Homo sapiens: one gene and its partners. The protein of the gene in region 3 purifies or fractionates together with the protein of the main gene of each other region. This does not show direct contact. Each region holds a gene or a part of one and is shown on either strand. Other genes may lie near its edges. The genes, in order: PRPF4, CDC5L, EFTUD2, USP39, SART1, BCAS2 and SF3B1.

What was found.
Region 1: the proteins of EFTUD2 (region 3) and PRPF4 purify together in Homo sapiens (affinity purification with mass spectrometry; 4 studies listed by BioGRID and IntAct, with this or other methods). This does not show direct contact.
Region 2: the proteins of EFTUD2 (region 3) and CDC5L purify together in Homo sapiens (affinity purification with mass spectrometry; 6 studies listed by BioGRID and IntAct, with this or other methods). This does not show direct contact.
Region 4: the proteins of EFTUD2 (region 3) and USP39 purify together in Homo sapiens (affinity purification with mass spectrometry; 4 studies listed by BioGRID and IntAct, with this or other methods). This does not show direct contact.
Region 5: the proteins of EFTUD2 (region 3) and SART1 purify together in Homo sapiens (affinity purification with mass spectrometry; 4 studies listed by BioGRID and IntAct, with this or other methods). This does not show direct contact.
Region 6: the proteins of EFTUD2 (region 3) and BCAS2 purify together in Homo sapiens (affinity purification with mass spectrometry; 3 studies listed by BioGRID and IntAct, with this or other methods). This does not show direct contact.
Region 7: the proteins of EFTUD2 (region 3) and SF3B1 purify together in Homo sapiens (affinity purification with mass spectrometry; 4 studies listed by BioGRID and IntAct, with this or other methods). This does not show direct contact.

Annotation. Positions count from the first base shown.
Region 1 is NC_000009.12:113,278,658-113,282,157, forward strand, and holds part of PRPF4 (U4/U6 small nuclear ribonucleoprotein Prp4), read left to right. Parts: intron 1-287; coding exon 288-474; intron 475-3,500. UniProt on the Homo sapiens protein: Plays a role in pre-mRNA splicing as component of the U4/U6-U5 tri-snRNP complex that is involved in spliceosome assembly, and as component of the precatalytic spliceosome (spliceosome B complex).
Region 2 is NC_000006.12:44,390,706-44,394,205, forward strand, and holds part of CDC5L (cell division cycle 5-like protein), read left to right. Parts: intron 1-1,961; coding exon 1,962-2,123; intron 2,124-2,740; coding exon 2,741-2,868; intron 2,869-3,500.
Region 3 is NC_000017.11:44,864,946-44,868,445, reverse strand, and holds part of EFTUD2 (116 kDa U5 small nuclear ribonucleoprotein component), read left to right. Parts: intron 1-95; coding exon 96-159; intron 160-548; coding exon 549-639; intron 640-3,380; coding exon 3,381-3,500. UniProt on the Homo sapiens protein: Required for pre-mRNA splicing as component of the spliceosome, including pre-catalytic, catalytic and post-catalytic spliceosomal complexes. Component of the U5 snRNP and the U4/U6-U5 tri-snRNP complex, a building block of the spliceosome.
Region 4 is NC_000002.12:85,619,186-85,622,685, forward strand, and holds part of USP39 (ubiquitin carboxyl-terminal hydrolase 39), read left to right. Parts: intron 1-34; coding exon 35-104; intron 105-2,299; coding exon 2,300-2,394; intron 2,395-3,500.
Region 5 is NC_000011.10:65,968,234-65,971,733, forward strand, and holds part of SART1 (U4/U6.U5 tri-snRNP-associated protein 1), read left to right. Parts: intron 1-3,500. UniProt on the Homo sapiens protein: Plays a role in mRNA splicing as a component of the U4/U6-U5 tri-snRNP, one of the building blocks of the spliceosome. May also bind to DNA.
Region 6 is NC_000001.11:114,575,116-114,578,615, reverse strand, and holds part of BCAS2 (pre-mRNA-splicing factor SPF27), read left to right. Parts: intron 1-1,857; coding exon 1,858-1,928; intron 1,929-2,864; coding exon 2,865-3,026; intron 3,027-3,500. UniProt on the Homo sapiens protein: Required for pre-mRNA splicing as component of the activated spliceosome. Component of the PRP19-CDC5L complex that forms an integral part of the spliceosome and is required for activating pre-mRNA splicing.
Region 7 is NC_000002.12:197,407,529-197,411,028, reverse strand, and holds part of SF3B1 (splicing factor 3B subunit 1), read left to right. Parts: intron 1-1,021; coding exon 1,022-1,259; intron 1,260-2,447; coding exon 2,448-2,660; intron 2,661-2,909; coding exon 2,910-3,031; intron 3,032-3,500. UniProt on the Homo sapiens protein: Component of the 17S U2 SnRNP complex of the spliceosome, a large ribonucleoprotein complex that removes introns from transcribed pre-mRNAs.

The DNA of each region.
Region 1 (3,500 bases), on a different chromosome or scaffold from region 3:
GATGTTCTGTACTCTTACTTGCTGGTCTCAGCCAAAGTGTGTGTTTATATAGGCACAAAGTTAATAAATGAAACAAGAGGTGGCTTGAACCATTTTCTTGCCTTTTGAAGCTGTGTCATTTAGGTTTATGTGTTTGGCATAATTTAATAAACTGAAAAACAGTAAACTATAAAATGTGTAATAGACAGTTACTTTTCCCTCAGGGCATACACAGACTGCAATTACTAGAAATTATTTCTCTCTATTTGAAGAAGATCTGCTGATGTTGCCTGTTTTCTTTTTAATAGGAGAAGTGTTTGAAATTGAAGAGCATATCAGCGAGCGACAGGCAGAAGTATTGGCTGAGTTTGAGAGAAGGAAGCGAGCCCGGCAGATCAATGTTTCCACAGATGACTCAGAGGTCAAAGCTTGCCTTAGAGCCTTGGGGGAACCCATCACACTTTTTGGAGAGGGTCCTGCTGAAAGAAGAGAAAGGTTGCCTTTCTAAATATTTACTTTTTTTCTTTATTATAATCACAGGGTTCTACTCCAAATTTTGGTTGATCATTTAGTTGAACTTTAATAGAATGTCTCAAATCATGTTAACAATATCTTACTGTGTTTATATGAGTTAGCCCATAATCTGTCTTAGGCCAATTTTTACCGCACTATTAATGTTTCTTTTTTGTGTTTGTTCGTTTTTGTTTTGTTTTGTTTTGTTTTGTTTTGTTTTGTTTTGTGTTTTGAGACAGAGTCTTGCTCTGTCACCCAGGCTTGAGTGCAGCGTCGTGATCTCGGCTCACTGCAGCCTCCGCCTCCCGGGTTCAAGCGATTTTCCTGCCTCAGCCTCCCAAGTGGCTGGGATTACAGGCACCTGCCACCACATTTTTCTTTTTTGTATTTTTAGTTATTTTTTATATTTTTGTATTTTTAGTAGAGACAGGGTTTCACCATGTTGGCCAGGCTGGTCTTGAACTCCTAACCTCAAATGATTTACCCACCTTGGCCTCCCAAAGTGCTGGGATTACAAGCGTGAGCCTTCGTGCCTGGCCCGTTTTTCTTTATAGACTTGGAAGAGGGTGCTAACATGCTCCCTTGCCTCCCCTCCCCAGTGCGAGTTTTGAATTGGATAAACATTTGTTGTTGGGCTTTGAAAATTGAGACATCAAATGCATTCCATATCAATGACATAGAACAATGATAAATGTTTCTTGGATTTTATTGAAGAGGGGTACCATCCTCAGATAATGCCCTCTTGTTATTTGCAGGTTGCGAAGTCTTAGTTGTGGTCTAGTCACACACAATTATGAGGAGCCCCTCTGGTCTCTCTGTCCACTGTCTCATCTACCCTTCATCATCCAGCTTGTTGGAAGGGTTTTTTCTATTACTCCCTTGAGGTCCTTACCCTTATTTACTCTTCAACCTGCTGCAAACTGACCAACCCCTACCACATTAAAATTGCTCTTTGTTAAGATCACCAATCCACCTTTACTAAGAATAGCCCTAGTATACTGCCAGCCACTCCTCCTTGAAATACTCCCTCCTTGAACTACTCCCTTTCCTTCACTCTCCTAATAACAAATCCTCTTGATTTTCCTCTTCTCTCACTAGCTAATTCTTCTCACTTACCTTCTAAACCTCTTTTTCTCTGCCTGCCCTTTACAGGCTGCCTTTTTCTCTACTTGCCCTTGGTGATCAGCTCTACTCCCATGGCATCATTCACTGTGTGTTCTGATGATTCCCAAATCTCTCACTGCAGCTTAGGTATCCCACAGGTACTTCAAACTTGAGACATCTGAATTGAAATATTTCCCCACCTCTCTCCTATACTCATACAATTCTTAGTTGAAAATCTGCCTAGCCTCCTTTATAATCCATTAGCAAAATCTGGTCTGTTCTACTTGCGAGATACAACTCCAGCTATCTTCTTTGCTCTATCTTTACTGCTTTCAAATCTGCACTGTTGTGATAGCCCCAAACATGTTGTGTTAATTGCTTGCTTAAAATCCTAGATTGTCTTCTCATACTTGGAGTAAAAAACTCTTACCATGGTCTGTAAGGTCTTCAGCCTTACTCATGTCTCCCTTCCCCAATTTACTAGAATAGCCACATTGGTCCTTATGGAATATGCTAGTTCTTTTTATGTCTTTCCACATAATTGGTCTACTTTTATTCTTCTGTCTTGTCTTTTAGAGGCTTTTTTTCTTCCTTTTTTTTTCTTTGAAACGGAGTCTCGCTCTGTCACCCAGGGTGGAGTGCGGTGGTGCAATCTCAGCTCACTGCAACCTCCACCTCCCAGGTACAAGCCATTCTCCTGCCTCAGCCTCCCAAGTAGCTGGGACTACAGGCATGTGCCACCATGCCTGGCTAATTTCTGTATTTTTAGTAGAGACGGGGTTTCAACACGTTGGCCAGGTGTTGAACACCTCCTCAAGTGATCCTCTCAACACCTCCTCAAGTGATCCGCCTGCCTGGGCCTCCCAAAGTGCTGGGATTACAGATGTGAGCTACCGCGCCCGGCCTTTCTTCTTCATTTTTTATTAACCTGGATCCCTGTCAAACTTCTTATTCTTTCGTTTCAGCATAGATGCCACCTATTCAAAGAAGCCTTTCGTCACACCTAACCCCTCTGTTCTCTGTCATAGTATGTTATTTTATTAGCCTTTTCAAAGGGTATACTTTTTTATTATTGTTTAGTTTGTTTTTTCCACCAGCAAAGTCTATCTTATTCATTATTATGTTCCTTAAATGAATCCTTTGAGTCACTACTGCTACTATCTGAATTTCAGTCCACGGTTGTGACTCAGAGCGTCACTACAACAGTACTGTCTGATTTCCCTGCCATTATTCTTCCCTTTTAATCCATTCTTTGTACTGTTTCAGGGATCTTTCTCATCTGTAAATCCTCCTGAGCGTGGCATTAGCAATTCTTTGTGACCTGGCTCCTCCTTGCATTTGCAGCCCTATTCTTCACCAGTCCTCTTCTATGTTCTACGCTCCAGCCATATTGAATTATTTGTGACTGCAAGCTCAACATGTTTTTCTTACCTCCAGGCCTTATTTGTTTAACCCTCTGCCTGACATTTTCTCATTCTTGACCCCCTTGACCTGATTAACTGAGGACTCAATTTACATATTACCTTTTTTTAATGAAGCCTTCCCTGATCCTCTAAGCTTAGTTAGATGCCCGTTACAAAGTCCCCTCTAGCCCTCTGTGCTTACTGCTATAGTGATAGGTAATATAATGGATTATAGTTTGCCAGTACTCTCTGTTGTTTCCCCAGGACTAAGCTACTTGAAATCAAGAACTGATTCCTAGTCATCACTGTATAGTTAGCACCTGAGTCAGTATCCAGTACATTGTGGCACTGAGTGAAAGTTGGCAGTCTTCACAGACCAAGTGGTAGCAGTGTAGGGGCTCATTGACTCTAAACTGTATAGAGTAATTGCTTATAGTTGAATTTTGGAAATTTCCAAATAGAGAAGACTGAGTGGGAGAAACCACACTGGGAGTTTAGCCA
Region 2 (3,500 bases), on a different chromosome or scaffold from region 3:
ATGAGCCCCAGCTTGTAAATTAATTGTGTTCTAAAAGTGCATAAGTTAGCTGTTTTAGAAATTACTTGCTCAAAGAAATAAATGATAAATAATGGCTAATTTTCTAAGTAAGCCTACAGTAGTTGAGTTTCCTCATAATACAGTTGAAATATTATATATTTTATAGTTAATATGTTATATATTATATATTAAACATACTTAATGTTATATATTATATATTAAACATATTTAATATGTTATATATTATATATTAAACATATTTAATATGTTATATATTATATATTAAACATATTTAATATGTTATATATTATATATTAAACATATTTAATATGTTATATATTATATATTAAACATATTTAATATGTTATATATTATATATTAAACATTTAATATGTTATATATTATATATTAAACATATTTAATATGTTATATATTATATATTAAACATATTTAATATGTTATATATTGTATATATTAAACATATTTAATATGTTATATATATTAAAAGATATAAGCCAACTCTGAACCTGTGGTGTCACCTCTTTTTTATTTTTATTTTTTGGGACGGAGTCTTGCTCTGTCGCCCAGGCTGGAGTGCAGTGGCGTGATCTCAGCTCACTGCAAGCTTTGCCTCCCGGGTTCACGCCATTCTTCTGCCATAGCCTCCTGAGTAGCTGGGACTACAGGCTCCTGCCACCATTCCCGGCTAATTTTTTGTATTTTTAGTAGAGACGGAGTTTCGCCGTGTTAGCCAGGATGGTCTTGATCTCCTGACCTCGTGATCCATCCACCTCGGCCTCCCAGAGTGCTGGGATTACAGGCGTGAGCCACCGCGCCCGGCTGGTGTCACCTCTTAAATCATAGGGTAGTGGACACGTGAAGCTATTTAGGGTGTTCTTGGCATGAGTTATTTAGCACCATCCCCAAGTCATGTGGCATTAGGAAAATACTTTGGATTGTATAAGAATGACCTAATTTCCTAGGCACCTGGTTAGGGGAAAGTATCAGAATGTAGAAATTGGCCAGGCGTGGTGGCTCACATCTGTAAGCCTAGCACTTCGGGAGGCCAAGGCTGGGATCACCTGAGGTCAGGAGTTTGAGACCAGCCTGGCCAACATGGTGAAAACCCCGTCTCTTCTAAAAGTACAAAAATTAGCCAGGCGTGGTGGCTACTTGGGAGGCTGAGGTGGGAGGATCGGTTGAACCCAGGAGGTGGAGGTTGTAGTGAGCTGAGATGCTGCCACTGCACTCCAGCCTGGGCGACAGAGTGAGGCTTTTTGAATGTAGAAATTGGCTGTTAAGAGGAAGATGATTTTTAGGCTGAAGAAGTCGTTCTGATTTCTGTTTGTCTTAGTGGTACCAGTTCCTGCTGTCATATTTGGTAGGACTTAAGTCCTGTTTGCCTGCCTGTCATCCAGCTAAGTAGACTGGATGGAAAAGGTGGGCTGGGTGGGGAATTAGGAAAGACAGAGGGAATGTCATAGTAGTTTTACTTAAATTTTAAAACATATCAAATGAAAGGTTACGGTGAATTTAGTGAGTGTAAGTCAAATGCTTAAAGAAATAAGCCATGGTGTGAGAATCAAAGCATGAGAAAATAGTATGAAAACTGGAAACACTGTAAGAAACGTGATTTTGTATTGTCTTCCAAATATTTCAAAATTTCTAGAAAAGCGTAAATAAATAAAAACATGATAGATGAGAAAGAAGGCTTATGATCATGATTCAGTGAAGTAACCTTTTTTAACCATTACTAATCTTGCATAATTAAAATAAAATAGAATGTGATGAGATGGGGAATATTGACTGGGGTAAGTGTAACCACACAGCAAATATTCTGTTGTCAAAAAGAACAGTTTTTGTAATTGAAGGATGAGAGCACAAGTCAGTGTATCCATTGTGCAAATTGGATATTTATGCCAGGTAACTGATTAATATATAAAATGATCTATGTTTAATAGGTATGAATGGCTGGATCCAAGCATTAAGAAGACAGAATGGTCCAGAGAAGAAGAGGAAAAACTCTTGCACTTGGCCAAGTTGATGCCAACTCAGTGGAGGACCATTGCTCCAATCATTGGAAGAACAGCGGCCCAGTGCTTAGAACACTATGAATTTCTTCTGTAAGTGAGTCTTCAGAAAGAGCATAGAATATATGTATATGTTCTGAAAGAGGCTGAATAAACTTTGAGTATTTTCTGTCTTTAAACTTTTAATTATGGATGTGAGTAAACCCAAAGCTAAAGCCATTGGATAATATTTTCCATATCTCAGATGGTTGATCAAAATTATGCCTTCTGTCATATACTTCCTAAAATAATAATTTAAAAGAATTATACAAGTCATGCATGTTCATCATAGAAAATCTGGGGAAAAAATAGTAAAAGAGCAAATAAAAGTCACCCATAATCACACTGCTAAGAATTAACTACTGGAACATTTTGGTTCTTTACTAATAGTTTTTTTTTTTTTTTTTTTTTTTTTAAATTTGTATGGCTGTACCGCATTTGTGATTAGGATCTGTTTGGGTTCTATTTTAGAGTGATTGAAACCAGTCACTGAAATCAGCAAATTTTAATATCATTTCTTTCAGATGAAGTGATAGTAAAAAGGCTTTATGTTGTTAAAGCCCATCCATTGGTTTTTTTGGGGGGAAAAATATCGTCAGAACTTGGAAATCTGGTAATTTTAACTCTAAATGGTACTGTAGTGTGACTAACTCCTATGGGCTTTTTTCTAGGGATAAAGCTGCCCAAAGAGACAATGAAGAGGAAACAACAGATGATCCACGAAAACTTAAACCTGGAGAAATAGATCCAAATCCAGAAACAAAACCAGCGCGGCCTGATCCAATTGATATGGATGAGGGTAAGTGTATGCTTTGAGGAATTTATTTCTTTGGTAACTGTAAACTCCTTGGGCCTCACTCTTTTAGTTCCTTTCTGAACTCCTCTACTTTAGAATCCCTTTTTTTTTTGAGACAAGGTCTTGCTCTGTTACCCAGGCTGGAATGAAGTGGCACAATCATGGTTCACTGCGGTTTTGACCTCCTGGGCTTAAGCAATCCTCCCATCTCAGCCTCCTGAGTAGTTGGGACTACAGGTTTATGCCGCCATACCTGGCTAATTTTTAAATTTTTTTGTAGAGATGGGGTCTCCCTGTGTTACCCAGGCTGGTCTCAAACTCCTGGGCTTAAGCTATCCTCCCTTTTCTGCCTCCAAAAGTGTTGAGATTATAGGTGTGAGCCACCATACCTGATCCCCAATTCTGTCAGCAGTGTTCTTATTCTAAGTATCTTTCCAAATATGTCCAGTGTTTTCTGTTATAGAGTAGTTGCTTTTTCTGAACAGCGCCCCTTCATCTTCTGTTTCTTCAATTCAGTTAATTAAGTTAATTAAGTGTTACGGGGTGTGGTGGTATGTGCCTGTAGTGCTAGCTGCTAAGGAAGTTGAGGTGGGTCGATCTCTTTAGCCCAGGAGTTGGAGGCCAGTCTGGGCAAC
Region 3 (3,500 bases):
AGAAGTTCTCAGCTATGAACCACCTGTGGCACCTGAAACAGAATTTTGAACGACACTTTGCTAGGTAGATTATAATTGTGTGGCTTCTCCCATAGGTGACATTAATTACCAAGAATTTGCTAAAAGACTCTGGGGTGACATCTACTTCAACCCTAAGACGTAAGTAGAGTATGGGACGTGACTTTCCAGAGGGGTGATCATTTACCCAGTAAGTGAGGACAGTGAAATTCTCTGAGTTCAAAGATTAAATACCTACTTTTTTTTTTTTTTTTAATGTAAACTACCGTCTTTCCTCCCCTAAATGGGTTGGCTTCCTAAGCTCTGATCTGGTGAGAAGCTGTTTCTCCTGAAGTCTTTACAGCCCAGCTCAGGCATCCAGGAGGGTCATAACCATGTATCCTTCCAGGAATCTGTCTCTGGAAACTTTACAGTCACACACACATTCCTCCCCTGGGCTGTTGTTCAGATTCAGCACTTAGACAATGCCTCTTGGGATCAGTGATAGTGCCTTTTCCCCTGGGTCACTCAGAACTTATTTTTCCTTTTAGGCGAAAGTTCACCAAAAAGGCCCCAACTAGCAGCTCCCAGAGAAGTTTCGTGGAGTTTATCTTGGAGCCTCTTTATAAGATCCTCGCCCAGGTGAGTGTGTCAGGTCACACTGGGCAGATCTGCTCTTATAAGCACAGTGTGGAAGAGCTGGTGAACTCACACTTCCCTCTGTCCCTAAACCTGCTCAGTTTTATGTCAAGTATAAGGGTGGTTGTTGGTCACTAATTGTTCCAGAAGTAATCTTCTGGATCCAGAACACTACATTACTCTAAGTGTTATTAAAATCAAAGGAAAGGGGCCCGGGCATGGTGGCTCATGCCTGTAATCCTAGCACTTTGGGAGGCCGAGGTGGGCAGATTGCCTGAGCTCAGGAGCTTGAGACCAGCCTAGGCAACACGATGAAACCCCGTCTCCACCAAAATACAAAAAATTAGCTGGGCATGGTGGCGGGCGCCTGTAGTCCCAGCTACTCGGGAGGCTAAGGCAAGAGAATTGCTTGAACTCAGGAGGCAGAGGTTGCAGTGAGCCGAGATTGCACCACTGCACTCCAGCCTGGGCGACAGAGCGAGACTCTGTCACCAAAAAAAAAAAAAAAAAAATCAAAGGAAAGGGAAAAGGTATGAAAGAAAAGACTTCTCCTAGAGCAGGTTTATGAACAGATCTTGACTATTGAGAAGAATGTGACACTTAGAACTAATCATTTCAGTTACGGAAATTTAACTTACAGATATAATTGTGAAAGTCCTCCTGCTTATTCATATAAGTCAAAGTGTTTATTATAGCATTTTTAGAGATAGGGTCCCACTCTGTCGCCCAGGTGGGAGTGCAATAGCACGATCATAGCTCACTGCAGCTTCAAACTCCTAGGTTTGAGCAATCCTCCCACCTCAGCCTCCTGAGAAGCTGGGACTGCAGGTGCAAGCTACCATGCCTGGCTAACTTTTAAAAAATTTTGTGTAGAGACAGGGTCTTGCCATTATCCCCAAGCTGGTCTCAAACTTGTAGCCTCAAGTGATCCTCCTGCCTTGGCCTCCCAAAGTGCTGGGCTTACAGGCAGGAGTCCACCACCTCAGCTTATAGCATTGTTTGTAACATCAGGAAAAGGGAAAAAACTGGAAATAAGTTAAATGTTTGTCAGTTATGCTCATTAATCTGATTAAATGAGTGATGGTACATCCCATAAAATGAACCGCTTTGCAACCACTTAAAGTATGTCTGAGCTGGGCACAGTGGCTCAGGCCTGTAATCCAGACGCTTTGGGAGGCCAAGGCGGGAGGATCACTTGAGTCCAGGAGTTCAAGACCAGCCTGGGCAACATGGCAAGACCCCATTTCTACTAAAAATACAAAAATTAGCCAGGCGTGGTGGCTCATGCTTGTAATCCCAGCTACTCTTGAGGCAGAGGCTGCAGTGAGCTGAGATTGTGCCACTGCACTCCAGCCTGGGTGACAGAGCAAGACTCCGTCTCAAAAAAAATAAAATAAATCAACTGGGACTGGTGGTGTGCACTTGTGGTCCCAGCTACTCAGGAGGCTGAGGCCAGAGGATTGCTTGAACCCTGGTGGTCAAAGCTGCAGTGATCCATGATCACACACCACTGCATTCCAGCCTGAGTGATGGAGTGAGACCCTGTCTCAGAAAAAAACAAAACAAAGCATGTTCGTATGAACTTTGCTTTCTTAACTGTTTGCACAATATGTGATGCTTGTCAGATTGAAATCATTTGTCAGGAGATGGTAAGGATTTAATTAAGCATGTGGAATGCTGAGAAGCAAAGAATATAACGTGGCCGGATGTGGTTGCTCACGCCTGTAATTCCAGCACTTTGGGAGGTCCCAGTGGGCAGATCGCTTGAGATCAGGAGTTCAAGACCAGCTTGGACAACATGGCTAAACCCTTTATCTCCGCACAAAATAGAATTAGCTGTTGTAGTGGTGTGTGCCTGTGGTCCCAACTACTTGGGGGGCTGAGGCAGGAGGATCACTTGAGCCCAGGAGGTGGAGGTTGCAGTGAGCCGTGATCACACCACTGCACTCCAGGCTGGGTGACAGAGTGAGACCCTGTCTCTAAAAAAGGGAATATAGCATGACGTTTATATGAATTTGTACTCCCTAAAAGATGGGACTAAAAGGGTAAAAATTATAGGAATTTTCATACAGACCTTTCTCCCAAGGCAGTAATAAAATATGCAGGTATTTAATAAGCACAGTGGACACACACATACACAAAATGTGTGTGGCCATTCCGGTGGACAAAACAGCAAAACCTAGCAACAAGATAAAATAGCAATTAAAATTTATTAGTGCTGAAAAATACTTAGTATCTTATGTCAGACTGGAATGGATTAATAAAAAAAATTTATAGAGCCTGCCTCAGTAGAGACCTTGAGTCTACTGAGGGTGATTTAGCTTGGCCCTGCCCTGACAGGATCCACAGCAAGGTGACCTTTTTTGGTTCCTTCCAGTGCACAATGATCCTCTAAATCTGAGAAGTCTGTAAATAGACTTCTGTTTAATAGGTGAGGGAGTTTCTGAGTGGGAGGAGATGCTGCTTTTCAGACACCAGGGGGCAGCACTGGGAGTAATCAATCTGAGTGCTTGGTTTATTGGCTGGGATGGGGATGTAACCAAGTTGGCTTTGCCTGTGGTTTGAAGGGTAGGTAGCAGAGATGCCGCTGAAACCAAACTTTTGTCCTTGCCAAGAGCTTTGTCTCCATAGAAGAGAGCCTTGTGAAGGAGTTCTTCAGATATTTCTTTGGACTTCCCTTGTCTCCCTCTAGCACCATGCTCAGGCTCTCACTACAGCTGACATGGTGTCTTACACCCTCACAGGTTGTAGGTGACGTGGACACCAGCCTCCCACGGACCCTAGACGAGCTTGGCATCCACCTGACGAAGGAGGAGCTGAAGCTGAACATCCGCCCCTTGCTCAGGCTGGTCTGCAAAAAGTTC
Region 4 (3,500 bases), on a different chromosome or scaffold from region 3:
CCATTTTCAAAGCCTGTGATGATTTTCCTTTCAGCAAAGAATGGCCGAGTGGATTCTGAGGACCGGAGGAGCCGCCACTGCCCGTACCTGGACACCATTAACAGGTCAGTAGGACAGAGATGCTGAGTATAGCACAAGAACAATGGAATCTGTGCAGAAAGTTTTTGGACTGTACAGTGAACAACACATTGACAAACTTTACTTTTTTTGAACCTGTCTAGAGAGTTGTGCTTCTTGCCATGTTACTCCTTATTCTTTGATTTAAAGTGTCAGAACACATGTTGTTAAAGAGCTTATTTTGCATTTGTATGTTGGGATAACAGGATGCATAGTATCCTAAAATAACAGTAGCACATTGAAATGTTTATGGAGTATCTAGTATGTGCTGGATACTATTTTGGGTGCCTGGGATTCAGCAGAAAAAAAACACAGAAATTTGTTTGAAAGCTGAGGTAGTTTACCTCATCATAGCATTCTTTTCTCTGATTCCCAGGTGGCATGTAGAATGTTTTTCAACCTATATTGTAGGGGAATGTTTTACAATAATATAATTACTCTTGTAAGAGCTGGGTGTGGTGGCCCACGCCTTTACTCAGCCCTTTGGCAGGCCAAGGCAGGAGGATCCCTTGAGGCCAGAAATTTGAGACCAGCCTGGTCAACATAATGAGACCCATCTTTTTTTTTTTGAGATGGAGTTTCATTTTTGTCCCCCAGGCTGGAGTGCAATGGCGCGATCTTGGCTTACTGCAACCTTCGCCTTCCAGGTTCAAGTGATTATCCTGCCTCAGCTTCCTGAGTAGCTGGGATTACAGGTGCCCGCCACCACGCCCAGCTAATTTTTGTATTTTTTTTAGAAGAGACGGGGTTTCATCATGTTGGCCAGGCTGACCTCAAACTCCTGAACTCAGGAGATCCACCTGCCTTGGCCTCCCAAAGTGCTGGGATTACAGGCATGAGCCACCACGCCCAGCCAACGAGACCCATCTTTTAAAAAAACTTAAAAAAAAAGTTATGGCCGGGTGCTCTGGCTCATGCCTGTAATCCCAGCACTTTGGGAGGCTGAGGCAGGCAGATTGCTTGAGCTCAGGAGTTTGAGCATCCTGGGCAGCATGGCAAAACTTCAGCTCTACAAAAAATAAAAAAATTAGCCAGGTGTGGTGGTGCACTCCTGTAGTCCCAGCTTCTTGGGGGGCTGAAGCAGGAGGATTGCTTGAACCTAGGAGGTTGAGGCTGCAGTGAGCTGAGATTGCGCCACTGTACTCCAGCCTGGATGACAAAGTGAGACCCTATCTCAAAAAAAAAAAACCAAAAAAGTTATAAGGGCTGTTCATTATGGTAGGCATGAGCCACCTGTGGCTTCAGTGGCTCCTGCAGTTGAAGAACTGAATTTTAAATTTTATTTAATTGAATTACAGTCAGCCTCAGTATCAGGATATGGAACCTGAAGGTACAAAGGGCCAGCTGTAAGGGGCTTGAACATTGTGGATTTTGGTATTTGAAGGGGTCCTAGAACCAGTGTCCTGTGGCTACTGAGGGACAGCTGTATTTTAAATTTAATTGTCAATAGCCACTTTGTCTAGTGGCCTCTAATAAATTAGACAGCATAGCTCTTTGGGATTATTATCGGTTAATTAAGAGTTACTATTTGAGAATAAATCTCTTTGTGGATTCAGTGGAGATAAGGTTTTTGTTCCTTACTGCCAGTACTCACTTTGCACTTGAATAAATAGGTCTGTTTATAGGTATTCTGAAATTCTTCAGGCTATTTGTTTTTATGGATAAAAATACATTTTTATTTTGTAATTAATTATTATTATTATTTGTTTTTAAGAGAGGATCCCACTCTGTATCCCAGTCTGGAGTGCAGTGGTGGATCAGAGCTCATTAGTCACAAACTCCTGGGCTTAAGTGATATGTTTTTCTTTTATGCAAGGATTTATTCACCCTTTTTATGTCCTCTCCACCTCCAGAATGCTGCTGGGGTACTGTTACCTTAGTCTAACTTGTAGCTTTCTCTCTAGAGAAAGTGACTGCAATGGAAAGTCCTGAACTGGTTACAAACACTAATGAGAAAGAGGCTCGTGGGTATTATGTGTCTGGTGGAGACACCTCAACAGTGCTTTGGAGCATGGCGGGTGGAGGTGAGGAATAATCAGTGTCCCCCATGGTGTATATATGGTTGTGAACTGTTTTCTGAAGGATGTTATGTGGTATCATGGGTCACAGAGCCAGCACTGCTTCATTTGCGTGCCTTCCTACATGTCCATCCTATTTATTTTTTTCTGTTTTGTTTCCTTAGGAGTGTGCTGGACTTTGACTTTGAGAAACTGTGTTCTATCTCCCTCTCACACATCAATGCTTATGCCTGTCTGGTGTGTGGCAAGTACTTTCAAGGTAAATAAGTTGTTAGAGCTAACTGCAGATCTGCTCCAGAGGGACTTTTTTTTTTTTTTTAAAGAAAGTAAGCTGTTCTCAGGAATCATATCTAATAATTTCTATTTGTTCCCAGGAAATTGAAATATTCTTAGAAAACCAATAAGAGGTTCTCTGACTGGTCAGAACCTGGATATGTCTGTAAGGGAGAAAGAGCTAGTCATATGAAAGACTGTAATCTTAAAGACTCTGGGTTCTCGAATCTCTAATATATGTATTTTTTTAATTTTTACTTTTTTAAAATTATTTTGAGACAGTGTTGCCCAGGTTGGCTCACTGCAACCTCCGCCTCCTGGGTTCAAGCAATTGTCCTGCCTCAGCCTCCAGAGTAGCTGAGATTACAGGCGCCTGCCACCATGCCTGGCTAATTTTTGTATTTTTAGTAGAAACGGGGTTTCACCATGTTGGCCAGGTTGGTCTTGAACTCCTGGCCGCAGGTGATCCACCTGTCTTGGCCTCCCACAGTGCTGGGATTACAGGCGTGAGCCACCGCGCCCGGCCTAATTTTTTTTTTTTTTAAGAGATGGAGTCTCACTCTGTCACCCAGGCTGCAGTGCAGTGACGTGATCTTGGCTCACTGCAGCCTCTTGACTCCCAGGTTCAAGTGATTCTCCTGCCTCAGCCTCCTGAGTAGCTGGGATTACAGGCATGCACCATCACACCCGGCTAATTTTAGTATTTTTTAGTAGAGAGGGGGTTTCACCATATTGGCCACACTGGTCTTGAACTCCTGACTTTAAGTGATCCATACTCCTCAGCCTCCCAAAGTGCTGGGATTACAGGCATGAGCCACCGTGCACGGCCACATTTTTTTAAAAGATGGGATTGTACTCTGTTGCCCAGGCTAGTCTTGAAATTCCTGAGCTCAAGCAGTGTGCTTGCCTGTACCTCCCAAAGTGCTGGGATTATAGATGTGAGCCATTGCACCCTGCTGTCTGGCTAATTATTTTATTTTATTTTTTTGTGGAGACAAGGCCTTATTATGTTACCCAGGCTACAATTTTTTTTTTTTTTTTGGAATATTCTTTAGCTCAAAGGACTTTTTTTATTCCATTTTTTTCTGAAAA
Region 5 (3,500 bases), on a different chromosome or scaffold from region 3:
CACCGTGCCCAGCCCTCTATTCTGTTTAAAGTCATGTTTTGCAAAAATTTTTAGATGCCTGCTTTAGTAGGGGATCCTTTCCTTGCCTCTCTCTTCTGTGCATGTTTGTTGAATGCCTGCTGTGAGTAGTGCATTGTTCTTGGGCTGAGAAGGTCATTGGTGAACAGGATAGCCATGGGGCCCTGGGCTCATGGAGCTGGCTTTCTAGAGTGTGTGGGGGAGAGCGTGGGGAGCAGCAGTGACTGTTAATGCAGGAACGGTAATTTCTGATGGTGGTGGGAGCTGGGCACTCAGTAAACCAAGATAACGTGCCGGGGGTTGGGATCTTAGATGGGAGAGTGCAGGGAAGACCTTTCCAAGGTACTAGTTCATCTGAGACTTGAGTCACACAGAGGAGCCAGCCTTGCGGGGGGTTAGGGGTGGCAGCAGGTGGACAGGCTGGCATTTAGGCAGTAGACCAACCAGCAGGTGTCTCAGGAGAAGTGACCTTAGAGTGCCTGAGGGCCAGGGAGGCTGGAGCAGAGCAGAGAGTGAGGGGTGGCGTGAGCTGAGATGGAGAGGTAGGGGGCCAACGCAGGGGGAGCCTTGACCCCATGGTCGTCGCTGCCCCAGAGGCACAGTGGGCCGGGCACTGCTCACATGTTCTGTGTTTGTTGATTCATTCCATCCTCCCAGCAACACCCTATGAGGAAGGTTCTGTCATCTCCATCATTCCAGAGGCCACACTTTTAGCCCTACCCCACACTTCTCACCTAGGAAGAAGCCAAGAAAGCGTGTCCAGGAGAGGGAGCAAGGGAGGGAAGCTTCTGATACTACTGGGAGGCAAAGTGGGGACAGTTGCAGTGGATTCAGGACCCGGAGGACAGGGGAGTTGAAAAAGTGAGGGCTGAACCCGGGACGGAGGCCAGGCTTACTGTTGAAGGGCTGGAGAGGACGTATTTGAGGTTTAAGGGCATATGGTCTCTGTTAGGCACCTTGAATGCTGTGCTGTTATAGGGAAAACAGCCAAGACAGTCTGTAAGTGAGTGGGCGTGGCTGGGTTCCAGTAATACTTTATTTCTAAGAACAGGTGTTGGGACATAGTTTGCCCGGCTAAAAAGGAACAGAGAAATGGAGCAATAGGCTGACAGGGCTGTTTTATGACTGAAATGAACATAAGGGTTTCTAGCCCCGTGGATCTCAGCCTGCCTGCACATTAGACTCACCTAGGAGGTTGTTTTTGTTGTTGTTTTAAGAAACAAGGTCTCGCTCGGTTGCCCAGGCTGGAGTGCAGTAGTGCAATCATAGTTCACTGCAGCCTTGAACTCCTGGGCTCAAGGGATCCTCCTGCCTCAGGCTCTCAAGTAGCTGAGACTACAGGCGTGCGCCTGTGGGTCTCAGTGTGTTGCCCGGGCTGGTCTCAAATTCCTGAGCTCAAACGATCCTCTCGCCTCCACCTCCCAAAGTGCTGGGGTTACAGGCATGAGCCACCAGGCCTGGTGTAGCCTAGAAAGTTTTTGTTGTTGTTTGAGACGGAGTCTCGCTCTGTCACCAGGCTGGAGTGCAGTGGCGCGATCTCGGCTCACTGCAACCTCCATGTCCCGGGCTCAAGCAATTCTCCTGCCTCAGCCTCCTGAGTAGCTGGAACTACAGGTGCATGCCACCACGCCCAGCTGATTTTTGTATTTTTTAGAAGAAACAGGGTTTCACCGTGTTGGTCAGGCTGGTCTCAAACTCCTCACCTTGTGATCCACCCTCCTCAGCCTCCCAAAGTGCTGGAATTAGAGGCATGAACCACCACACCCGGCCACCTAGAAGGTTTTTTAAACATATGAGCCACACCCCACACACTGTGCAGGCAAAAAAGTGGAAAGCCTATCACAGTGAACACCTTTGTCCTCTAGAGTCAGTAATTATAAACATTGTTACAGTTCTTTTCTTTCTCTTCTTTTTTTCCTGACCACTGGGAGTTGCAGATATCATGACACTGCATCCTTAACGACTTCAGTAGGCATCTGGCGAAATCAGGGCCTTCTCCCGCATAGCCACACTGCCCTAACAAGCCCATAAATGCTGTAAAACAGCAGCTCGCATGCCAACATTTTCCAGTTATCCCCCAAAATGTCTTTTTAGTTTTTTGTTGTAAGCAGCATCCAATCAAGTTTCCCACCCGCAAAGGAGCCTTTTCTGACTACCGGAGATTCTAGAGTATGTGGGAGACACATTTATGACGGAAGAAGAAAAAGATCTCGGCAGGCGGTGCTGGGGCCTAGAGTGCAAGTGGAGGGTGGGCTTGAGTGAAGCCAGCTCGTGTCATCATTTATTTCAGGAGGGAAGGTGGGGAGGGCACAGCAGCTGTGGGTGACCTTGTTTAGGGGAAGTCAAGGCAGCCCATGGCCGATTGTTCTGGTGTTTTTCCAGTGAAGAGGTGGCAGAGGTGGTGGTGCAAAGAGATGGGAGATGCTGTTCTGGAGAGTGGAGAGCAGATACACCCTGGGAGAAGAGCAGGCCTGCCAGTGGCAGTGTGGATGGTGGGATTCATGAGCTGAGGAGGGGGATGGTGGAATTCATGAGCTGCTGAGGGAGGGGGATGGTGGGATTCATGAGCTGAGGAGGGGGATGGTGGGATTCATGAGCTGAGGAGGGGGATGGTGGGATTCATGAGCTGCTGAGGAGGGGGATGGTGGGATTCAGGAGCTGAGGAGGGGGATGGTGGGATTCATGAGCTGAGGAGGGGGATGGTGGGATTCATGAGCTGAGGAGGGGGATGGTGGGATTCATGAGCTGCTGAGGAGGGGGATGGTGGGATTCATGAGGTGCTGAGGAGGGGGGTGGTGGGATTCAGGAGCTGAGGAGGGGGATGGTGGGATTCATGAGCTGAGGAGGGGGATGGTGGGATTCATGAGCTGCTGAGGAGGGGGATGGGATTCATGAGCTGCTGAGGAGGGGGATGGTGGGATTCAGAAGCTGAGGAGGGGGATGGTGGGATTCATGAGCTGCTGAGGAGGGGGATGGTGGGATTCATGAGCTGAGGAGGGGGATGGTGGGATTCATGAGCTGAGGAGGGGGATGGTGGGATTCATGAGCTGCTGAGGAGGGGGATGGTGGGATTCAGGAGCTGCTGAGGAGGGGGATGGTGGGATTCATGAGCTGAGGAGGGGGATGGTGGGATTCATGAGCTGCTGAGGAGGGGGATGGTGGGATTCATGAGCTGCTGAGGAGGGGGATGGTGGGATTCATGAGCTGCTGAGGAGGGGGATGGTGGGATTCATGAGCTGAGGAGGGGGATGGTGGGATTCATGAGCTGAGGAGGGGGATGGTGGGATTCATGAGCTGAGGAGGGGGATGGTGGGATTCATGAGCTGCTGAAGAGGGGGATGGTGGGATTCAGGAGCTGCTGAGGAGGGGGATGGTGGGATTCAGGAGCTGAGGAGGGGGATGGTGGGATTAATGCCCTGAAGCAGTGGATGGTGGGATTGAGGATTGGGTTTTCTAGGGAGGAGGGACAAGGCAGTTAAGGG
Region 6 (3,500 bases), on a different chromosome or scaffold from region 3:
GTGGTTGAGGAAGGCCTCTCAAAGCTAAGATGAGACTACTCCATGAGCAGGGATTGCCCTTGCCGCTCCATGAACACTGGCTTAGTCTTTGGAGAGAGATGAGCTAAAATTCCAGATTTATCACTTACTGAGCATGTGAGTTAGTTAAGGGTTCCTCCTATGCTACATGGCTCAAGACTACTTATACTGCATTTTTATACTGCCTCGTGTTTAATTGGCTGTTTACTCCTTGTCTGTCACTGCAGAATTTTCTAGCTAGAATGCCCTGGTTTTTTTTTTTGCAGGAAACTAGGTAACTACATTTTCTTAAGATTGTGTGTAATTTAGCAGTAGCCCCTGCAAAATACTTTCTGCAGAAAGAAATGCTTAATACGAAATTTTTTGTTTTTTGTTTTTTGTTTTTTTGTTTTTTTGTTTTTTTGTTTTTGAGATGAAGTCTCACTCTGTTGCCAGGCTGGAGTGCAGTGGTGTGATCTCAGCTCACTGCAACCTCCACCTCCCAGGTTCAAGCAATTCTCCTGCCTCAGCCTCCGAGTATCTGGGATTACAGGCACGTGCCATCACGCCCAGCTAATTTTTGTATTTTTAGTAGAGATGAGGTTTCAACTTGTTGGCCAGGATGGTCTTGATCTCTTGACCTCGTGATCCACCCACCTCGGCCTCCCGAAGTGCTGGGATTACAGGCATGAGCCACCTCGCCCGGCCTAATAAAAACTTTTAAACATTCATGCAGGCTTCTGTAAGGCCTTTGATACTTATTTAGTCTAATTGTTAAGATAGTTGAAACCCTCAGAAAATTAAAATTACATGGAATAACCGAAGTATTACTACAAAGAAATATTTTAAGCAGTTCTTTATCCTCAGGGTAGGAAATGTGCAGAATGGAAATGGGTTAGGACGTTGGCCCTAAAGAGGAACAGCTATACTACATTTACTTGCGAACAGTAAAATTGCTAGAGAAGATAGTGAATATAAAGAAAAGACACTTTGGGAGGCTGAGGCAGGCCGATCACCTCAGGTCAGGAGTTCGAGACCAGCCTGGCCAACATGGTGAAACCCTGTCTCTACTAAAAATACAAAAATTAGCCAGGCATAGTGGCAGATGCCTGTCATCCCAGCTACTCGGGAGGCTGAGGCAAGAGAATCGCTTGAACCCGGGAGGCAGAGATGAGCCAAGATCGCGCCATTGCGCTCCAGCCTGGGGGACAAGAGCGAGACTTCGTCTCACAAAAAAAAAATAAATAAATAAATAAATTATTTCTTGGATTTCTGGAGGCTGGAAAGTGTACGGTTCACAGGCTGCATCTGGTGAGGGCCTTCTTGCTGGTGTGGACTTGGTGTACAGTCCTGAAGCAGCACAGGGCATTACATGGCAAGGTAGGGGCACACAAGAGAAAGACAAACTGGCTTTTATAACATACCCACTCTGGTGATAACTTATTAACCCATGAATGGATTGAGCCTTCATAACCCAATCACCTCTTAAAGACCCCACCTCTTAATACTATTACATTGGGGATTAAGTTTCTGTATGAATTTCAGAGGGGACAAACATTCAAACCATAGCACTGTCGAACTGATTCTGATATGCTTCTGGAATTAAGAACCACTGGTTTAGGATTAATCCTTTTCTCTGTGGGCTCCTTAATACATGCCACTTTTCCTGAATGTGAAGTGAGTGAGTGAGTGTGTGTGTGTGTGCTTCAGATTCTAGAGAGCATTTAACTCAGAGAAGAATTAGGGAAAGGTAAACAATTCATTATAATGGGTAGTGTAGCTTAAATCTGTTCTTTGGTGATTGTTAATTTTTAGTTGTCAACATGATCTTAGAAATCTTTTTTCTGATTTACACATCAGACTGACATAATGAGAAATGAATTTGAAAGACTGGCTGCTCGACAACCAATTGAATTGCTCAGTATGAAACGGTAAGAATATTAAAATGGAAATTAAAATTTAGTTTGTAGTAACTCAGTAATGAGCTGAGATTTGTGAAGAATGTATTTGCTGGCTAATATTGGCAGTGTTGGCCGGGTGTGGTGGCTCACACCTGTAATTCCAGCACTTTGGGAGGCCGAGGCTGGTGGATTGCTTGAATCCAGGAGTTTGAGACCAGCCTGGGCAACATGGCAAAACCCCATCTCTACCAAAAATAATTAATAATAATAATAATAATAATAATAAACGTACCTGGGTGTGGTGGCACGCACCCGTGGACCCAGCTACTTGGAAAGCTGAGGTAGGTGGATCGCTTGACACCCCCCAGGAGATGGAGGTTGCAGCAAGCCGAGATTGTGCCACTGCACTCCAGCGTTGGGGACAGAGGGAGACCCAGTCTTGAAAAAAAAACTATATATATATATATATAGAGAGAGAGAGAGAGAGAGAGAGAGGCAGTGTTGAAGGACTGACTGGGTAGTATGAAGAGAGAATAGAAGGAGTCATATCGCTTCTCATTTTTTTCTCTACCGGCGCATGGGTATGTTAGTGGATGGGTGGGTGTGAGTATTTTACAAAAATGGTAGCAAACTTTTTTGTCTACTGCTTTTTCCCCTTAATATATTACTGACATCTTAATATTATTAAATATTCTTCAGTAACATTTAATAGCTAATGTAACAATCTTTTATGTGAATGTAATGTTGCTTATTTAACCAGTTCACATTGAAGTGAACATAATGGTGCTAAATCATATTTGTAAATTGATTGTTAGCATATATCGGTTTCTTATTATTGCAAGGTTTACATCCTTAGTCTTCTGTAGTTTTTATACTATATGGAGACTCATGGGACATTCTACTGAGAAGAGATGTAAAGGCTTGGCAGTATAGATGGTTTTATTTTATTTTGTTGTTTAATTTCAGATATGAGCTTCCAGCCCCCTCCTCTGGTCAAAAAAATGACATTACTGCATGGCAAGAATGTGTAAACAATTCTATGGCCCAGTTAGAGCATCAAGCAGTTAGAATTGAGAATCTGGAACTAATGTCACAGCATGGATGTAATGCCTGGAAAGTATACAATGAGTAAGAACCTTTTTCTTCATCTTCTGTTTTTTTTGTTTTTTCTCTTTTCTTTCCATCTCACCCAAAGTTTTAGTACATTTTAAAAGTATGGGAGGTGCTGGGTGCAGTGGCTCATGCCAGTAATCCCAGCCCTTTGGGAGGCAGAGGTGGGTGGATTGCTTGAGGTCAGGAGTTCGAGACCAGCCTGGCCAACATGGTGAAACCCCATTTCTACAAAAAAAAAAAATACAAAAAATTAGCTGGGCATGGTAACGTGTGCCTGTAATCCCAGCTACTCTGGAGGCTGAGGCATGACAATTGCTTCAGCCTGGGAGGCAGAGGTTGTAGTGAGCCAAGATTTTGCCACTGCACTCCAGCCTAGGCGACAGAATGAGACTCTATCTCAAAAAAAAAAAAAAAAAAAGAAAAGAAAAAGAAAAGCCGGGCGCGGTGGTTTACACCTGTAATCCCAGCACTTCAGGAGGCCGAGGCGGG
Region 7 (3,500 bases), on a different chromosome or scaffold from region 3:
TAGGTGGAGACTGCAGTGAGCCGTGATTGTGCCACTGCACTCAACCTGGGCGACAGAGTGAGACCCTGTGTCAAAAAACAAATGAAAATCCACCTCTCATCTTTTTTCATTAATCTTGCCAGCATCAGCTAGGGTAATATTATTTGGTACACATGTAACTGTACATACAAACTGATCTCAAGATTGAAATCATGTGACGGTATCTGGTTATAATTACATAGGTGGGGCCTGGTGCGGTGGCTCACGCCTGTAATCCCAGCACTTTGGGAGGCCAAGGTGGGTGGATCACGAGGTCAGGAGTTCGAGACCAGCCTGACCAACGTGGAGAAACCCTGTTTCTACTAAAAATACAAAAATTAGCCCGGCGTGGTGGCAGGCACCTGTAACCCCAGCTACTCAGGAGGCTGAGGCTGGAGAATCACTTGAACCCGGGAGGCAGAGGTTGCTGTGAGCCAAGATCATGCCCCGGCACTCCAGCCTGGGTGACAGAGCGAGACTCTGTCTCAAAAAAAAAAAAAAAAAAAAAATTACATAGGTGATCTAAAGCATGTTTATATTAATTAAACACACACAATTAAACAAAACATCAACAGGACTATTTTCTTAGAACACACGAATTCCTTCTCCCCTAAATATGTGTCTCTAAGCCCCACTTTGAGAAGTACTAATGTAATTAGAGCTGAAAGCCTTCGATTACTGATCTAGATAGAGAAACCTCAGTGATTTCCCCCAGTCACAGAGCTATTAATGGCATATCAAAGATTCATATCGATAATATTTTGTTTTTTTAAGCTGGGACTTTTGTCAGTGCTTCGGATTGAAACTTTACATTGTTTTTAATCATAAACATTTGCTAGAAAGTAGGTATCTTTTCCTATAAGTAGAGGTAGTGTCTTCTAACTTTTCATTAATTATAGTGCATAGAACTAAAACATTTTTCGTTTAAAGTTTTTTATTTTATGGAAATTTTCTAATTATTTCTGTGTGGGTGTGTGAAATAAAATTTTTTTGCTTTTTTAAGACCCCTGGGCATACTCCTTCCTTAAGATGGGATGAGACACCAGGTCGTGCAAAGGGAAGCGAGACTCCTGGAGCAACCCCAGGCTCAAAAATATGGGATCCTACACCTAGCCACACACCAGCGGGAGCTGCTACTCCTGGACGAGGTGATACACCAGGCCATGCGACACCAGGCCATGGAGGCGCAACTTCCAGTGCTCGTAAAAACAGATGGGATGAAACCCCCAAAACAGAGAGAGGTACTTCTAGTGGAGTATGGGTGTGTGGGTGAAATGTTGAGTGATATGTTTACAGACTGAAATGTGTTCTGTTTATTCCTGGGTGGACACGTATAAATAACCAGCTGCTTTTGGGGGACAGATTAAGAATAGAACAGTTCATATGCCTAATTTTTTCCACTTCTTGAAGTGGTTTAAGATTTAAGGAAGAACCTTAGGTAAAAGTAAAGTTAGTAGGCTGTAACCTTTGATTTTGTGTGTTTCTTTAGAGATAGGGTCTTGCTCACTGTAGCCTTGACATCCTAGGCTCAAGTGATCTTCCCACCTCAGCCTTCTTAGTAGCTGAGACTATAGGGGCATGCCACCATGCCTGGCTAATTTTTTTTTTTTGAGATGGAGTTTTGCTCTTGTTGTCCAGACTGGAATGCAATGGCGCGATCTCAGCTCACTGCAACCTCCACCTCCCGGATTCAGGCGATTCTCCTGCCTCAGCCTTCCTGAGTAGCTGGGATTACAGGCATGCGCCACCAAGCCCGGCTAATTTTGTATTTTTAGTAGAGACGGGGTTTCTCTATGCTGGTCAGGCGGGTCTCGAACTCCCGACCTCAGATGATCTGCCCCCCTCGGCCTTCTGAAATGCTGGGATTACAGGCATGAGCCACCGCTTCCGGCCCCTGGCTAATTTTTAAATTTTTTGTAGAGACAATGTCTTGCTTCATTGCCCAGCCTGGTGTTGAACTCCTGGTTTCAAGTGATCTGCCAAAGTGTTGGAATTACAGGCATGAACCACTGTGCCTGACTTACCCTTTGTTTTTTATTATGGAAAAATGTACATAACATCAAATTTACTTTTTTTGTTGTTGTTGTTGAGATGGAGTCTTGCTCTGTCACCCAAGCTAGAGTGCAGTGGTGCGCTCTCGGCTGACTGCAACCTCTGCCTCCCCAGTTCAAGTGATTCTTTTGCTTCAGCCTCCTGAGTAGCTGGGATTACAAGCGCCCACCACCACACCTGGCTACTTTTTGTATTTTTAGTAGAGACAGAGTTTCATCATGTTGATCAGGCTGGTCTCAAACAACTTTAAATGGGTCACCATTTTAGGAATATTCTATTTTAGAACTTGATAGTTTTGAGTATAACTGTTTGAGAATAAAGAATATTATTTTAACAGTGATTAAAATTGTGGTTTTACTCACTCTTTCTTTTTAAAGATACTCCTGGGCATGGAAGTGGATGGGCTGAGACTCCTCGAACAGATCGAGGTGGAGATTCTATTGGTGAAACACCGACTCCTGGAGCCAGTAAAAGAAAATCACGGTGGGATGAAACACCAGCTAGTCAGATGGGTGGAAGCACTCCAGTTCTGACCCCTGGAAAGACACCAATTGGCACACCAGCCATGAACATGGCTACCCCTACTCCAGGTAGAACTGTCTCATTGGACATAATTGTTTTTTTCTCCATAAATTATTTAATTTTTTCCTTTGTGGTATTCTGTGTACTATTAATGTCAACTTCTAGTAAGAATAAGGAGATATACAAATTTAAGTCTTGGTTTGCGTTTATAATATAAAAGCAAATAATAGGATTGATCTTAACTGTCTTTTATCTCAATGTATGTAATAATACAGTCTTGTACTATAGATTATATAAAAATTTGCTTTTCTTGGTAGGTCACATAATGAGTATGACTCCTGAACAGCTTCAGGCTTGGCGGTGGGAAAGAGAAATTGATGAGAGAAATCGCCCACTTTCTGATGAGGAATTAGATGCTATGTTCCCAGAAGGATATAAGGTAGTACATCAAATTTGAATGAGGTGGTATTTAGGATATACATTTATTTTAAATAGTGAAAAAAATTGATTAAGCTTGCATTGGCTTTGCCCAAATTTACTATTGTCATTCCATTCTCTTAGCTATTTCCAGGTATATTTCAGTTCCATATAGAGATGAAAAGAAATGAACAACATGAAACTTTTATTACTTTTTGAAAGACATCTCAAAGACTTGTGTATGGGTCTATCGGTTATACTTTGAGAACTGCTGGTGCTTCAGTTTTCTAGCAGTCCCAGGAATAAGCTCGTTGAGATTGTGGTTATTTTACTTGGTGCTTCACCAAGATTTTATATACTTAAGTTTATGGATTGTCAGTGGACACAAAGAATTTTTTTTTTTTTTTTTTTTTAAAAGATGGAGTCTCACTCTGTTGCCCAGGCTGAAGTGCAGTGGCGTGATTTCGGCTCATTGCAACCTCCGCCTCCCA